Regions from separate parts of the Homo sapiens genome. Here region 2 is linked to region 1. Evidence: fine-mapped expression QTL. A gene starts in region 1. The other region holds a variant in brackets. All regions are shown on one strand. Distances are between the middles of the regions. Region 1 holds the start of GCNA (germ cell nuclear acidic peptidase). Region 2 overlaps OGT (O-linked N-acetylglucosamine (GlcNAc) transferase).

Evidence for each region. PIP is the estimated chance that this variant, and not a neighbour inherited with it, causes the effect.
Region 2: its variant is the best candidate, but not a certain one, in a credible set for the expression of GCNA in blood mononuclear cells (TOPMed, PIP 0.52).

What each region holds. Positions count from the first base shown.
Region 1 is chrX:71,576,262-71,580,482 of GRCh38, reverse strand. It overlaps GCNA (germ cell nuclear acidic peptidase), which reads right to left and starts at 2,046. Exons shown (of 13, transcript NM_052957.5): 1 at 1,961-2,046. RefSeq lists an enhancer at 1,198-1,839.
Region 2 is chrX:71,554,742-71,558,962 of GRCh38, reverse strand. OGT (O-linked N-acetylglucosamine (GlcNAc) transferase) reads right to left here. Exons shown (of 22, transcript NM_181672.3): 7 at 3,578-3,773; 8 at 2,869-3,009; 9 at 2,183-2,283; 10 at 1,858-2,011; 11 at 1,667-1,768; 12 at 1,291-1,470. Among named protein-coding and RNA genes, the nearest start is that of GCNA, 22 kb to the left of the region's middle. The variant C/T (reference allele first, on the strand shown) is at 2,083.

The DNA of each region.
Region 1 (4,221 bases):
AAGAAAAAGAAAATAAAATAAAAAGAAAAAAAAAAGAAAGCCAGAACTCAAAAGCAGAGACATCTCTACATTTACATTCTGCATTTATCTTTGGGTATCTTCCCCACCTTAAAGCCGAAACTTTGCTCTGCAAAATGAAAAGGATTTAAATTTGTTTTGTTGCAAACTTTTCCCACTCAGGCCTCTACCACCCCAATCTCTTCCCACCCTGCACCCGCCCCCACTTCCCACTCCCTCCACTCCCACCTCAACTTGCCAGTCTTCCACGTATCAGGGCTCGACCGCCCCCACATCCCACTGGCCCTCCACCTCCCTACAACCTTCAGTCCCCCTACTCCTGCCCCAAGGAAGTCTCCCACCTACCGGGTGTCAACCTCTCCCCCTTCCCCTACCTCTTTACTCCCCACTCTGTCAATCTTACCCAGAATAGGCTACCACCGCCCCCTCATCACCTTCTTCCTTCTGTCCAACCTCCACTGCCCCCTTACCTCCCGCCACTCTGGCTTCTCACTGGTCTTATATGAATCCGGCCACCCCCTCCACGCTTCCTATTCCTGCCTCCAGCCTCTAGCCAATCTTCGACCAAACAGGCCTTGACCCCTCCCCAACTCCTTCCTCCTATCAGGTCTGGACCCTACCCCCACCATTCTCACCTCAGTCTTCCACCAATCAGGCCTCAACCCCACCACCCTTCCCCCACACTCGCACCTCCAACCACCTCCAGCCACCTTCAACTGCTCCCAACCGGTTTTCCAAGCAGGCTTCCACTCCCCCACACTTCTATCCAACTTCTGCCCTACCCCACTCCTGTCTCCCACCACCACTCAGTCCTCAGCCAAAGAGACCTCAACCCCCACACACACACCCCTACCCACAACCACTAGCTCCCACCTCCCCCCAATGCTGCAACGGGCACCCCCACTTCTCCCCACAGCCACTGGCACCCCCACCTCCAATGCCACCACCAGCATCCTCACTTCTCCCCACGCCCACCAGCACCACCACGTGCTCCTAGGCCACTTCCACCACCACCAAGTGTTCCTACGCCGCCACCAGAACCCCCCACTTCCCTCAACGCCCCCATTGGCACCCCCACCTTCAATGCGGCCACCGGCGCCTCCACTTCTCCCCACACCGCCAGCGCTACTATGTGCTCCTATGCCACCAACGCCACCAAGTACTCCTAGGCCGCAACTGGCACCCCCACCTCCCCCCACGCTGCCACTGGCATCCCTACTTCTCCCCACCCGCCACTAGGGACACCACCTGTTCCTACACCACCACTGGGGCCCCCACCTCCCCCCAGTGCCGCAACCAGCGCCCTCACTTCTCCCCGCGCCGCCACCGGCGCCACGTATTCCTACATAGCCACTGGCGCCACCACACGCTCCTACGCCACCACCAGCGCTCCCACTTCCCCCAAGGCCGCCAATGGTGCCCCTACTTCTCCCCACACCGTCACTGGTGCTACCACATGCTCCTACACCACCACCAGCACCCCCACTTCCCCGACACTGCCACAGGCACCCCCACTTCCCCCAACGCCGCCACTGGTGCCCCTACTTCTCTCCACCCGCCACTGGCACCAACACCTCCTTCTACGCCACCACCAGGCCCCCCACTATCTGCAATGACGCCACCAGCGCCCCTTCTCCCCACGCCGCCACTGGCACTACCAGCTGCTCCTACGCCGCCACCGGCGCCCCCACCCCTCCCAATGCCGCCACTGGCGCCACCATATGTTTCCTACACCACCATGGGCGCCCCCACCTCCCCCAATGCTACCACTGGCGCCTCCACTTCTCCCCTCGCTGCCACTTCCTCTACTCCCACCTCAGGCCTACACGGGCAACCAGAGTCCAAGGTATACAGTGGTCCTGATTTTAATTAAGTCACTCAATTAGGATTAACCTCTGGACCACTTCAGCACCCATCTCAGTCCGACCAGCCGGTCACCTACCTGGTGTTGCAGCCTCTGGCGTGGCCGGCAGCAGCTCACCTCCAACTGCCCGTGGAGTGTGTGCAAAGATCCGGAGCAACTGCGATGAACAACGCCAGGCGCAGGCCCCTTTATAGTGCCCGGACCTAGGGGGCGGTAGCAGTAATTCACGTGTGCTCGCCCGCGCTCCCCTGTACCCACCTATCACAGTGGTCACAAGACAAATTTGAACTTCGCGCCTGTGAACTTGGCGCCTAGCTGTAACGCTTCCGGGATCAGGTCTGTCGCTTTCCACTCCCACGGATGTTGCTTATTTGTCCCAAAACCGCCATTTCAATACTAGAGCGTGGGCACCCGAGGCCAATTCTGCGATTAAAAGTCCCTAACAACTTTCTGATAAAGAGAAACCATGTGAAATCGTTCATAACAAACTTTTATCCTGCGAGAACTTGGATAAGCGAGCCTTGTTCCTTACTTGAATTGTCCAGACCTCTAAGTCCGTTATTGCAACCACTGGGAAAGGGCGCGGGGGGAGGGGCGGGGGCACGAGAACTGGAGCGAAGGCGCGGGAGCAGGGGCGTGGACGGGAACACCGAGGGGAGGGCGGGGCGCGGGGGGACGCGGGAGCGCAGGGGGGCGGGGGTTGCAGGGAAGGCCATCTAGACCCCTAGATAAGAGCAAGGCAGCAACTCAACAGCGCCTGGCAACGGCGAACTATGATGTTTACTTCCAGAACCCTCCAAACCCTGGAGATAAAAAAAGGTTACTTGAGGCTTTTTGGCACTCACTCCATACACACCAAGAAAAACAAACGGGGAAAACAGCGCTTTCTAGATTGTGCCAGTTTCTCCAGCGAGCATCTATATATTTCGTAATGTATGCCTTTGGGTAACAGAACACACATAAAATGTCCCTGCGTTTGATACTATTTTGTGCTAAGCATTATTCCAAGTGTCTTACGACTTAATTCATACAACACTTTAAAAAGTAGGCAACTGTTAGCACTCTCATTTTAGAGATCACACAGCTAGAAAGTGGCAGAGCTGGCCGGGCACAGTGGCTCACGCCTGTAACCCCAGCACTTTGGGAGGCTGAGGCGGGTGGATCACGAAGTCAGGAGCTTGAGACCAGCCTGGTCAACATGGTGAAACCCCGTCTCTACTAAAGATAAAAAAAAAAAAATAGCCGCGTGTGGTGGCCCGCGCCTGTAATCCCAGCTACTCGGGAGGCTGAGGCAGGAGAATCGCTGGAACCTGGGAGGCGGAGGTTGCAGTGAGCCGAGATCGTGCCATTGCACTCCAGCATGGGGACAGGGCGAGACTCCATCTCAAAAAAAAAAAAAAAAGTGGCAGAGCTGAGATTCAAACTCCAACTCTAGTTCCAAAACCTGCTCTTAAGCACCAGATTGCCTACCTAAATACAGATACTTTCTCAGTTGATAAAAAAATTGGATAAAGGGGGCTGATTACTCTCTCTCTCTACAATGAAGTTGCAAATTAACCTCTACAAGCCTCTTTATAAGAATGGGGATTACATAACTGTGCCTCAGAGGCTTGGGCAAAGAACCAGGATGTTAGCTATAATTGAGAGGCATATGCTTCAAGTAAAAGAATGGGATAGGTTTGGAATCAAATCTTAAAATGGGCAGTTCAGAAATTACACACATTTACTCAAGGTGTGCAAGCAACTCCTTTAGATTGAAGGCAGGAGGAGCTGAAGTAGACTGGAAATAATGTAGATTTTTCAAGAGAAGCGAATGGGAGTAAAAACTTTTGAGTAGGCTTTCTTCCCATAATAATCTTTTAGGAAACAAACACCAATCCACATGAGGGCTTTAAGAAGTTGGGAATTAAATCATGCAAAATTTTACTGAAAAAAATCTTCCCTCTCATATCTGAGAAAACTGGCAAACAGCATTTGCCATGATATCAATTCATGATATCAATCATGAATTGATATCTTCCTCCCTGATGCTTGTGGCAGAGTTCGACCACTATACAGAGCAGGAAGGAAAATAATTTTGCCCCCAAGAGCCAAGAAAAGAATGGTCCACATGAAAACCGAGACTACAAGGGTAAATGAAAGCAGAGAGGTCACAAGCAAAAGAGGAGCAAGCATGAATGGGTGTGTTGGGGATCACAGGCTTTGTCTTTTTTTTTTTTTGAGATGACATCTCACTCTGTTGTCCAGGCTGGAATGCAATGGCACGATCTCAGCTCACTGCAACCTCTGCCTCCCGGGTTCAAGCGATTCTCCTGTCTCAGCCTCGCATGTAGTTGGGA
Region 2 (4,221 bases), 22 kb after region 1:
AAAAAAAAAAAAAAAAAAAAAATTAGCTGGGCGTGGTGGCACATGCTTGTAGTCCCAGCTACCTGGGAGGCTGAGGTGGGAGAATCGCCCAAACCTGGGAGGTGGAGGTTGCAGTAAGCCAAGGTTGTGCCACTGCACTCCAGCCTGGGCAACAGAGCAAGACCCTGTCTCAAAAAAAAAAAAAAAAAAAAAAAAAAGTACGAGCAAATCTAACACTTGTAGGTATGAAGCAGTATGGACAGAGCATGGTTTCCTCCCGCATTTTAGAAAATTCTATAGGGAAACATTTTCTAAAAACAAAATTATGGCTGGGGGCAGTGGCTCATGCCTGTAATCCCAGCACTTTGGGAGGCTGAGGCAGGTGGATCACCTGAGGTCAGGATTTCGAGACCAGCCTAGCATGGCAAAGCCCTATCTCTACTAAAAATACAAAAATTAGCCAGGCGTGGTGGCACACGCCTGTAATCCTAGCTCCTCGGGAAGCTAAGGCACGAGCATCACTTTAACCTGGGAGACAGAGGTTGCAATGAGCTGAGATGGCACCACTGCACTGCAGTCTGGATGACAGAGACACTATGTCTCAAAAAAAAAAAAAAAGTACACCTAGCACTCCAATCTATTATCCAACCTTTGATCCAATCCTTGATCAAGTACTGCTCTAATTCTCAAAGGTGAATACAAAATACCAAGCACTCCATTAAACATGATGGCTGGCCAGGCGCGGTGGCTCACACCCGTAATCCCAGCACTTTGGCCGGGCGAGGTGGGCAGATCACTTGAGCCCAGAGGTTCAAGACCAGCTTGGGCAACATAGCAAAACCCCATCTCTACAAAAAACACAAAATTAGGTGTGGTGGCATGCGCCTGTAGTCCCAGCTACTCAGGAGGCTGAGGTGGGAGGATCACCTAAGCTCGGGGAGGTCAAGGCTGCAGTAAGCCATGATCACACCGCTGCACTCCAGCCTGGGCGACAGAGCAAGACCCCGTCTCAAAAAAAAAAGAAAAAAAAGATAAAAGAAAAAAAAATTATGGCTTTCAACTTAAAGAAAAGTACCATCAGTCTATCATTAGTGTTTAAGTGAAGGAGTTAAGGATTCCGTCTTATGAAGTGCAGGGGGTTATACTCAGGACACAATGGAAGGGGTTCTGAAGTGGCCCACAAAAGTTTTATTTCTCGACTTGGGTGGTGTTCACTTTATAATCGTTCATTAAGCCACAGATTTGATTTTTACAGTTTTCTGTATTTGTGTTTTAGTTTACAACAAAAAGATTAAAACAAAAGAATCACACCTTATCTAAGCACAGGTTGCCGTGCCTCTCAGCAATAGCCTTCCTGAAGCCATGAGAAAGAGGATATAGCATACTATGATGAGGATGCACAGAAGGCAACCTATTCTTCTCTAACTGGTCAGCCACAATACTGACCAACTTCTTCATTCGCTCATCATAGTCTGTCCAATCACAGACAATCTAGAGAAAGCAAAAACAAGTTATTATCCAGAAAGTCCTATCCCAGGATTTAATATTTGATATGTCTTTGGCCTAAAGTAATGTCAGATAGCCTATTAAAAATACTATTTCCAGTCAGGCTTGGATTCTTATGGCATACAACAATTAAAAAGCTATTACAACACTGAGAGCCAATTACTGGCCTGTTATTCTTTACCTGCAGGCAATGAGCCAAGTTACAATAAGCATCAGGAAAATCAGGCTTAAGTTTCAGAGCCGTGCGGTAAGAAGCTATGGCTTCTGGAATATTCCCTGAATCCTGGAAAATAAATAAAGCAGGATGGTAAAAAATTTCCAAAAGTTAAATTTTAGGTGTTAAACTGCACATATTATAATAAACAGTAGTACCTTATGAATGGAAGCCAGATTGCTATGTGCATCTGCAAATGCAGGATTAATTTGGATGGCACGCGTATAACACTGCAAGGCTCCCTGAACATCCTGCATCTCCTTTAGAGTGTTTCCCATATTAGAGTAGGCATCAGCAAAGGTAGGACTGATTCTAAAAGAGAAGCCAAAGGTTTTATTTCTCCAATACAAAAATCTTTAACCCACTGTAATGCTAACTTATTC[C/T]GTTGTTATTTAAAGCCATTTTAGCATCTGCAATGTGCCGAATGTCAAACATTTTAAAATTAAAAATAATTTTAAAAATAAGGCTGTTAGTGTCTCTTACCGAATAGCCTCCTTATAATGCATCAGAGCTTCCTGCAGTTTTCCCTGCTGCTGCAGTACACTTGCTAAATTTGAATGGGCAGCAGCAAACTCTGGGAAGACCTATAAAGAGTCAAGATCAGAACTGAGGTTAAAAAAATTGCTAAAGCAGCAGTAATAATTCACCACAACCTTAAGAACTTTGCTCAAGTACATTTAAACCCCTAAATTTGTCTCTACTTTTTCCAAGTCTATTCATTCTCAAATTCTACCTCTTCCTCTATTTTATACCTCTTCTTGTTTCAAACATAATGAGGTACACCTCTTCTCCTCTTAGTTTATCCTGACCACTCCAACACCACTGAAATCTCTCTCTGCTAAACTCCTACCACATCTACTAACCACTACCATACAGCCATCAGGCACTAAGATTATATACTTATAAGTAACTTCTCTTGAACTGTGGGTTAATGTTTAATTTTTTTGTACAGATCTTATCCACAGAATAATGAACTCTGAATGCAGGGATTTTCTGGAATGTCACATAGGGCCTCACATCATACCTTAGGTACTCAATTGTTACTTCAATGAATAATCCTCTTGTAAATGATTCAACCACTATTTTTACAAAAGAGGTGGATGATGGTAAACTTAACTGCTTTCCCTCTACTATCATGCTAAATGCCCAGCTACACCACCCTCACATACTTCTAATGCTTTACGATACAAGCGAACTGCCTCTTCAATGTTTCCCTGTTCTCGTTTGATATTGGCTAGGTTATTCAGAGAGTCTGCATGGGTGGGACACAGACGGAGAGCTGTATTATAACAATCTTCTGCTTCAGCAACCTAGAAAACAAAACAAAGTCTTCAAAAACTGTACAGAATCATAAAGCCTCCACTGATACTGTTCTAATAATTGTTTAATTAAGCCTAATGGCTGGTAATGCTACAGAAAATTGATATTTTTTGGTATTCTTACCCTCAACCAAAACTCTAAAGTAAACCAATATACCATCTCAATACTTGTACAAAAGACTTTCCTTTTTTGCTGTTTTTTGGTTTTTGTGATTTTTTTGAGACAGAGTCTCGTGCTCTGTTGCCCAGGCTGGAGTGCTGTGGCACAATCATGGCCCACTGCAGCCTCAACCTCCCAGGACTCAATCGATCCTCCCACCTCGGCCTCCCAAGGAGCTGGGACTACAGGTGTGTGCCACCATGCCCGGCTAATTTTTGTATTTCTTGTAGAGACAGGGTTTCGTCATGTTGCCTAGGCTGGTCTCGAAACCCTAAGCTCAAGCAATCCTCTGATCTCGGCCTCCCGAAGTGCTGGCATTACAAGTGTGAGCCACCACACCTGGCCAGAAAAGACTCTTAATCCTACCAGATAACAAATAGAATGAGTAAAAATCCTTACACTGCCCTTCTCTTTGAGAGCATTGGCTAGGTTGCAGTAAGCATCAGGGAAATGTGGTTGTAGTTCGATAGCCCGCCTGTAGGTGTCTATTGCCAGATCTATCAGGCCTTGCTCATAGTATACACAAGCCAGGTTGCCGTGCACCACTGCGTGATTTGGACTCAAACTTAGGGCACGAAGATAAGCTGCCACAGCTCTGTAAATAAACACACACACACACACACACACACACACACACACACACACACACAAAATGTAACTCATGCTTAATGGATGGTTTGTTACAACTCATTCAAGCTGTACTATATCAAAATATATCAAGTAATTGTAATTAATTACATAATTCATGCTGTATTATATTTTAACCTCAAACCAAAATCACACCTTTATAAAATGTGTCTTTACACTGGGAAGTTTTCTACTCCCACATAAAAAATAGGCTTTCCTTTGACAACAACAAAAAATTTAAAAGTCTGGATTTACTTTGCTTTCTAAAATCAGGTCAAAGGAATAATTTAGTCTAAGAAAGAATCATTTCAACCATTTTAACAATAAAAAAATTTCAACTAAACTCCCAATGAGAAGGATAACGGCTTTGAGGAAAGCCAACAACAAAAAGTCAGGCAACGAACAACATCTATAAA